Homo sapiens: one gene and its partner. The protein of the gene in region 1 binds, or shares a complex with, the protein of each later gene. Each region holds a gene or a part of one and is shown on either strand. Other genes may lie near its edges.

Region 1 (4,395 bases):
TACACATATATGTGTATATATACATATATGCGTGTATATATGTACATACACATATATACACACATATATGTGTATATATGTACATACACATATATACACGCATATATGTGTATATATACATATAGATACGCATATACACATTTTCTTTATCCACTAGTTGATTGATGGGCATTTGGGTTGGTTCCACGATTTTGCAATTGTGAATTTTGCTGCTATAAACGTGCATGTGCAAGTATCTTTTTCGAATAATGACTTCTTTTCCTCTGGGAAGATACCCAGTAGTGGGATTGCTGGATCAAATGGTAGTTCTACTTTTGTTCTTTAAGGAATCTCCACACTGTTTTCCATAGCAGCTGTACTATGTTATATTCCCCCCAGCAGTGTAGAAGTGTTCCCTGATTGTCACATCCACACCAACGTCTACTGTTTTTTGATTTTTTGATTATGGTCATTCTTGCAGGAGTAAGGTGGTATCGCACTGCGGTTTTGATTTGCGTTTTGCTGATCATTGGTGATGTTGAGCATTTTTTCATATGCTTGTTGACCATTTGTATATCTTCTTTTGAGAATTGTCTATTCATGTCCTTATCCCACTTTTTGATGGGATTGTTTTTTTCTTACTGATTTGTTGGAGTTCATTGTGGATTCTGGATATTAATCCTTTGTCAGATGTATAGATTGTGAAGATTTTCTCCCACTCTGTGGGTTGTCTGTTTACTCTGCTGACTGTTCCTTTTGCAGTGCAAAAGCTCTTTAGTTTAATTAGGTCCCAGCTATTTATCTTTGATTTTATTGCATTTGCTTTTTGGTTCTTGGTCATGAAATCCTTGCCTAAGCCAATATCTAGAACAAGCAAAGAAAGTTTACCTTTTATTTTATCTGTTTACTACTTTAAACAAGGTAATGTGATAAAAAGGTCATGTTAAGGTAATCAGGGTTAATGTATCACAGATTGTGTTTTAAAACTTGCTTACTGCAACCTTAAGTATTGGTATAATATAATCTCAAATTGTCTCTTTCAGAATTCTCATGCAAAGACTCCCGGGTTGCCACAGAGATCCCTGTCCATAGGGAGGCTCTTTCCCATCTCTCCTCCCTCCCACTTTAATTCCAAACTCAAAAAGGCAGATTAATCTAAGCTTAAAAAAGGTTTTAGTAGAAATAATTTGAAAACCCCAGAGCCCTGGGATATTGTTGGAATAACGATTTTTAGTGCTTTGGAAAGTAAAAGTTGATTTTTCTTTTCTTTCATTCTTCCCCATCCCTTCCCCCTTAATAAAGTTATCATTCTTGTCATTTTCTAGTTTTTTTTGTTTGGTTCAAGAGGATAAGATTATAGAAAATAGTCACTAACATATCCTGCTATAGAAAGAGATGATTGGACCTTCTATTTGGAAACCAGAACAAACAAGGAAACAAAGAAACAAATAATTCTGCTTTCCGATAGGTGCTGGTTTTACTTCCGCTGGCTGAGCTGTTGTTCCTGAGGTCAGACCCCAGCCAGTCTTTTGTGTACGTGCAGGACCATGGTGGCTTTAGTTTCTACCCCACCCTTCCTAGGAACTCTACTTGTGGCAAACGTATGTTCAAGCTTACAAGTCAGCCCACCCCACTCTGATAAATGCAAGAAAAGCTGAAAAGGGAGGAGCAAGATGGGATGAAAGCATCTGGGCCAAAGTGACCTGAAAACCTTTAGAGAAGAAGCTGCTGGCTGAGAAGGAGGTGTGTGGCTCCGGTGAGACCACCAGCTTGGAGGACTGGTCATCAGCTGCACGTTCTGGGTCTGTCTTGGGTATTCCCATATGGCCATGAGATCCGGGAGGCACCCCTCGCTGCTGCTGCTTCTAGTGCTGCTGCTGTGGCTGCTGCAGGTAAGCTGAGCCTGCAGCCTAGTGCTCAGGTGCAGGGAACTGAAAGCAAAGCACAAGCTGGCCCTGCCCCTTCTAGGCTAAGGGAGGGGAGAGGGACTGAGTGTGACCTGCTGGGACCCAGGGCTGGCTGTCTTGAGAATGGCTTAGGTAGCAGGGGCTCTGGATTTATATAAAGGGAAGTTAAGGGTCCCAGTCTGTTTGGGGCAACAGTGGGAGCAGGCTAAGGGACCTGTTTAAAACTAATTTATATAGTTCACACTATTTTTAGTGAGATTACATCAACACACACGTGTTTTCTTTCTTTGTTTCTTTCTCCTTTTGTTGAGACAGGGTCTGGCTTCATCATCCAGGCTGGAGTGCAGTGGCATGATCAAGGCTCACTGCAGCTTTAACCTCCCAGGCTCAGGTGATCCTTCCACCTCAGCCTCAAGAGTAGCTGGGACTACAGTAACTTACCACCACGCTGGCTAATTTCTGTATTTTTTATAGAGATGGATTTTCACCATGTTGCCCAGGCTGGTCTCGAACTCCTAAGCTCAAGTGATTTATTCGCCTTGCCCTTCCGAAGTGTTGGGTTTACAGGCATGAGCCACCTCACCCAGCCAACACACACAATTTTTTTTTTTTTTTGAGACAGGGTCTCGTCATCCAGGCTACAGTGCGTGGTGACATCTCAGTGCACCGCAACCTCCTCCTACTGGGTTCAAGCAACCTCCTGGCTCAGCCTCCCGAGTACTGGGACTACAGGTGCACGCCACCATGCCCGGCTAGTTTTTGTATTTTTATTAGAGACAGGGTTTCACCATGTTGGCCAGGCTGGTCTCAAACTCCTGACCTCAAGTGATCTGCCTGCCTCAGCCTCCCAAAGTGTTAGGATGACAGGCTTGAGACACTGCGCCCTGCCAAGTTTTATAATGATACTTCTGTTCACACTTTACATAAGATTGAGGAAATCTCAGTTGTCTGGATCCAAGGCAATTTGAGCAAACCCATGGGGATGGAATGGCTAAATCCATTGCCCCCAACTGCCACTGTTTAAATGGGAATACAAACTAGTGGAGTCAGGATTCGAAACACATGGGCTTGCTCTGTTTGTACTTAGAGTGGACAGAGGTAATGTTGCATGCGCTTGTTGGTTATGATCTGCTTCGTTGGCTTTCTGTAGGTAGGGAGAGGGAATCATTTCTTCCTTTGAATACCAGCTGAGGGTGGGAAGCAGCCCAGTGGCTGGTAACTGTGAGCTCTGGACTGGGCTGCTTGGCGTCCTGACCTAGGCTCCTTCACAGCCCGCTGGGGACCTAGGCCAGCTTAACTTTGTTCCTTACCTTGGATCAAGTTGAACTTACCTAGGGAGCTTCAAGGGATCTCAGTGCCTGGGTTTTGCCCCCAAAGGTTCAGGTTGAGCTGACCTGGGAGTGCACTGGGTGTCAGTGCACTGGTTTTAACATAACCTTGTTAAGCCTATTTTTCTTCACCTGAAAATGGAGCTAGTAACTGAATTTATCTGAGCCAGTGGTTGTACCAGTGAATGAGGAAATGCGTAAAAGCCCTTGGTACTGCGAAAGTTGTCAGAATCAGAATGGAGTTCCTTATGTTAAAACACACACACACACACACACACACACAGGCACAAAGCCTGATATATAGACACAAAGAAGGTTATGAAAAGGGGGTTCTCACATTTGTAGGCTTGATAACTAAAACTATCACAAAAGCTCTGCAAAAATAACAACTTTGCACAAAGGCCGTTAAAACCTTACACAAAAAATACTTTTTCGAAGAAATCTTCCCAGCAACTTTTTGTGCAAACTCAGACCAGTGTCACCCTTCTTATTGATCTTTGTAGCCAAAGATAATTATTTCAAAACAATGATATAATCCTTCTCATTTTTTCCTTTGAAAACCTTTATCTCCCTTTACCTCCCTGACTCTGCACATCGTTTACCATGGCACACATATTCCCATGGATATGTCCTTGCCCAGACAAACGTCATCTTCTCTTAGAGAGCCTCTGTCTACTATTAGGTTCACAGTTCAGTAACGACCCAGCCGTTTTTCTAATCACAGTGAAAATGGTTGGCAATATTCATTCAGAGCTCATGCTAAAACTATTTACTGGATACCTGCTTTGGGCCAGGCACTGGGAATACACCAATAAACATAATAGGGGGAAAACCCTGTCTGAAAGTGGATAACTTGTTTGGTACCAGTTGCTTGAGGTTTGGAGAATTTTCTTGGTCACATTTTGCCATATCAAGAGTTACGAGTTTCCTTAGTCAGACAGCACATTAATTTGATCTCCAATACTTCACAGAAGTCCTTTTTAGTAGCCCATGTTTGCATGGATTTGAATATAGTCCAGATCAAATCCTGTCCCCATCCTTCCCTCACTCCTGCTCCTACCCACAATGAGTCTGATCAGGAAACAGACCTGAATTCTCTTCCCTCTGGCGTATTAGTGCAGTGCCAAAGCAAATTAATTGACTTCTGAGGGTGGTTGGGTGGGGGTGGGCAGTGGGAATGG
Region 2 (3,817 bases), on another chromosome or scaffold:
AAAGTAGTTCTGACTACACAAACATTTCAGAATCTTACCCCTATCGCAGCCATACTTCCTACTTACTAAGGAATACAATTCCTACTTATTGATCACTATGCTTAGACAGCCATCCAACAGCTAGAGATGCTTCATTTTCAATTCTGCAACAAAGGTAAATTCTACTTTGACAATTTACCTTTATCAGAGGCCAGTGGGATGGTGGGTGTAAGAGCTTAACCACAACTGGTAGTCCATAGTGAAGGCGAACTGCATTCTGGGCCATCTCTGCTTCTTGGTGTCGGCTGGTCAGATGACGAAGAGCACAGATGGCAGGCTCAGTGATGTCTTCCCTGTCACCAGCCCGAAGGACAGTACGCACAAGAGCCTCTATACCACCCACTTGGCAGACCATCATCTTGTTCTTATAATTATTGCAAGTGAGGTTAGAAAGAATTCCAGCTGCACAGGTGACCACATTTATATCATCTGAACCCAGAAGCTGAACAAGAGTCCCAAGGAGACCTTCCATCCCTTCCTATGGAGATAAAAACAGATGGTCAGTACAAGCACATACTCATCTTGACTCTATTCCCATGGCACCAGTTTACTCAGAATTTACCTGTTTAGTTGCAGCATCTGAAAGATTCCTGAGAGTCCAAAGACAGTTCTGAACAAGACGTTGACTTGGATCTGTCAGGTGAAGTCCTAAAGCTTGCATTCCACCTAGAAAATTAAAAAGGATATAAGGCCCTAGTCATTAGCTAGAAGTGCCTATCAATCCTAAATATCTGTTCTAGCCTTAGGAGGTGTCCTTCTGTATTTCCAGAGTTTACTTCCTTTCACCTAAGTATTTGATTTCCTCTCATTTTCTAGAATGTTGCTCAGTTTCCTTCACTTTGCCAGTTCACCTCACTAGTGACAAACTCTCAAATAGCTACTGTTCCTTTCCTAAGCCGAAAAAGCCTTTGTTATCTCCACTGTCCCCCTTAGGTAATATTCTTATTACTCATTTCTTTTCATCCATTCAATCATTTCAAAAATATTTATTCAGTACCAGGTCCTGTTCTGAGCTGCAGATAGACCAGTGAACAAAAATATTCAGAAGTTCCTACCCTCAGAATTTATGATCTAGTTGGAAGAGGCAGAAAAATATACAATAAACTAAAACCATACAGTATGTCAGATGATATTAAAGGGCTATGGAGAAAAATAATGGAGTGGGGCTGCGATTTTAAATAGATAATTAGGTCACCTCACTGTGAAGGTGACATCTGACTAAAGACCTAAAGAAGCTAGGTAAATTCCTGGGGTAAGAACAATCCAGAAAGACGGCATGAAAACACTTACTGTCAGGGACTTTATACAATTCACTGACTACAAAACATGTGTTCCAAGGTTTACAATCTTCCATCCTTTAGGACCCTTAAATGGGGGACATTTACTCTGGCAAAGGAGTATAAATGGAAGCCCAATGCCCACATAGTAGATTAACTTCGCTCATCCATCTTCAACTTAAATCACTTCTGAATGCAGTAAGAGATACTTTTCCTTGTCTCCTTCATCTTTCGGGTCTGTTTTATTTCCTCAGATGAGGTCTATCTGCTGTAATTCTTATGGTACCCTGCACTTCTCCTTCATAGTGTAAGTTACTCCACTTTCCCTACAAGACAAAGATCACCTCTGTTGGGTTCCTTTTTCATAGTAGCTCCAGCTACTAATAGAATGATCTGCGTAAGACTGATGATCAGGATGCTCAGTATTTGTGAAATGACTACCTTCTTTCCCCTCTTTAAGACTTCATTCCCTCCCTTTACATAACTATTAACTCTAAGAGAATGGATTTTAACCCCAGATGTCCATCAGAATGGCCTACAGAGACTTTAAAACACACACATTCTGATTCAGCAGTTCTAGGGTAAAAAAAAAAGTCCCATACAGATGACTCTGTGGCACCTCTACCTCCCCTTCCCTGCTGCCCTTACCCCTATATACTAAGAGGGAAACTTCCAAATCTCTAGCCTGCCTCTCTTGCATTCTAGTATCATACATTTCCAGCTACCTACTGACCTTTTAAGTCACTTTAAGTCAGCTTCTTAAATTATTATGTTCAAAAATTAAGGATGCCTTCTGAGGGTTCCATTTATCTTCATGGTACCAATGTTGTCCCCTCCACAAACCGTTTTTGGTTGCTCCCTTAGCTCCTATATTATTACATTCTATGATTCTTTCAGGCATCTCAGACATCTGCCCTTTGCTATTGAGTTCTAAAAGCAAACTATTTCATTCCTAAAAGCCTGTAACATCTCAGTAGTCTGGTCTTCTAGCTTTTGGTCATTCAAACTGTTAATCTATACAATGCTATTATTAATATTTTAAACACACCACTGTGATGCTTTGCTATTGATAAACAACCATCGAAAGTGTCTCAGCATCCTTTTAAGATAATAGAAATACTTTAGTATAACCCTGAGGAACCGTTTAGAATTTGGATCCCACCTAGCCTTCCAAACTGACCAAAGTATTCTGTATCTATGGCTCCAAAGCTGGAATAAAGCATGAATAAACTCCATGAGTAGTAACTATCTTATAGGAACCTAGAAAGTCCTGCATGTTATGGCTCTGCTTACCTAACCTCAACCTCATACCAGGCCATCCACCTCATTACTAAGTTCTGTTTATGCAGACCTTCTCTTCAGCACCTGGATCTCCACAATCTCTTTCCCTTTTTTTTTTTTTTGAGATAGAGTCTCACTCTGTCGCCCAGGCTGAAGTGCAGTGGCGCTATCTCAGCTCACTGCAAGCTCCGCCTCCCGGGTTCACACCATTCTCCTGCCTCAGCCTCCCAAGTAGCTGGGACTACAGGCGCCTGCCACCACGCCCGGCTAACTTTTTGTATTTTTAGTAGAGATGGGGTTTCACTGTGTTAGCCAGGCTGGTCTCGATCTCCTGACCTCATGATCCGCCCACCTCAGCCTCCCAAAGTGCTGGAATTACAGGCGTGAGCCACCGTGCCTGACCAATCTCTTTCCTTCTAAGGCAAGCTTGTCCAACCTGCAGCCCATGGGCCACATGGCCTAGGACAGCTCTGAATGTAGCCCAACACAAATTCGTAAACTTTCTTAAACATTATGAGATTCTTTTGCAATTTTTTTTTGTTTTAGCTCATCAGCTATCATTAGTGTATTTGGTGTGTAGCCCAAGACAATTATTCTTCTTCCAATGTGGCCCAGGGAAGCCAAAAGACTGGATATCCCTGGTTCTAAGACATAGCACATGGTGTTCCTTTTCTCTACCTGGAAAACGTTTAACCCTCACTTCTCATATAGACAAGAGACGGTTCCCTCTCATCCTGCAGTCCCACTTAACATCCCCTTTTCAAGGAGACCTTTTCCCTCTCATCTAGACAATTCCCCTCCCCATTAATTCTCATCACTATTTGCTGTCATTTCTCCCATAACACTCATTCTAATTTAGGATCACATATTTTTAAGTATTTTTGTCACCTTCACAAGACTAAGAATTAAGCACGGGGACCCTATCTGTTGTGTTACCCAATGTATACTATGTGCCTATTCCATTTCTTAAAATACATTAGATGCTATTTTCAGAATAAACAAATGAACATAAGAATAACCTGGAAGAACTTAAAGATTCCTAAGCTTCCAGTCCCATACATGTCCAGCTATCTACAGACCTCCCTGTCACTTCAAATAAAACACTATGAGATCTTGATATAAAAATTAACACTCCAGGGATTCTGATTAAATAAATCTCAAAATCTGTATTTTTAGCCTACATTACAGGTTACTGCTGGAACAGCTGACAGAATTTACAT

The links.
Region 2: CDH26 (region 1) and CTNNB1 share a complex: the UniProt entries of both Homo sapiens proteins name them as parts of the cadherin:catenin adhesion complex.

What each region holds. Positions count from the first base shown.
Region 1 is NC_000020.11:59,956,925-59,961,319, forward strand, and holds the start of CDH26 (cadherin-like protein 26 isoform a precursor), read left to right. Parts: upstream 1-1,498; 5' UTR 1,499-1,802; coding exon 1,803-1,871; intron 1,872-4,395. UniProt on the Homo sapiens protein: Cadherins are calcium-dependent cell adhesion proteins. They preferentially interact with themselves in a homophilic manner in connecting cells; cadherins may thus contribute to the sorting of heterogeneous cell types.
Region 2 is NC_000003.12:41,230,229-41,234,045, reverse strand, and holds part of CTNNB1 (catenin beta-1), read right to left. Parts: intron 706-3,817; coding exon 602-705; intron 518-601; coding exon 179-517; intron 1-178. UniProt on the Homo sapiens protein: Key downstream component of the canonical Wnt signaling pathway.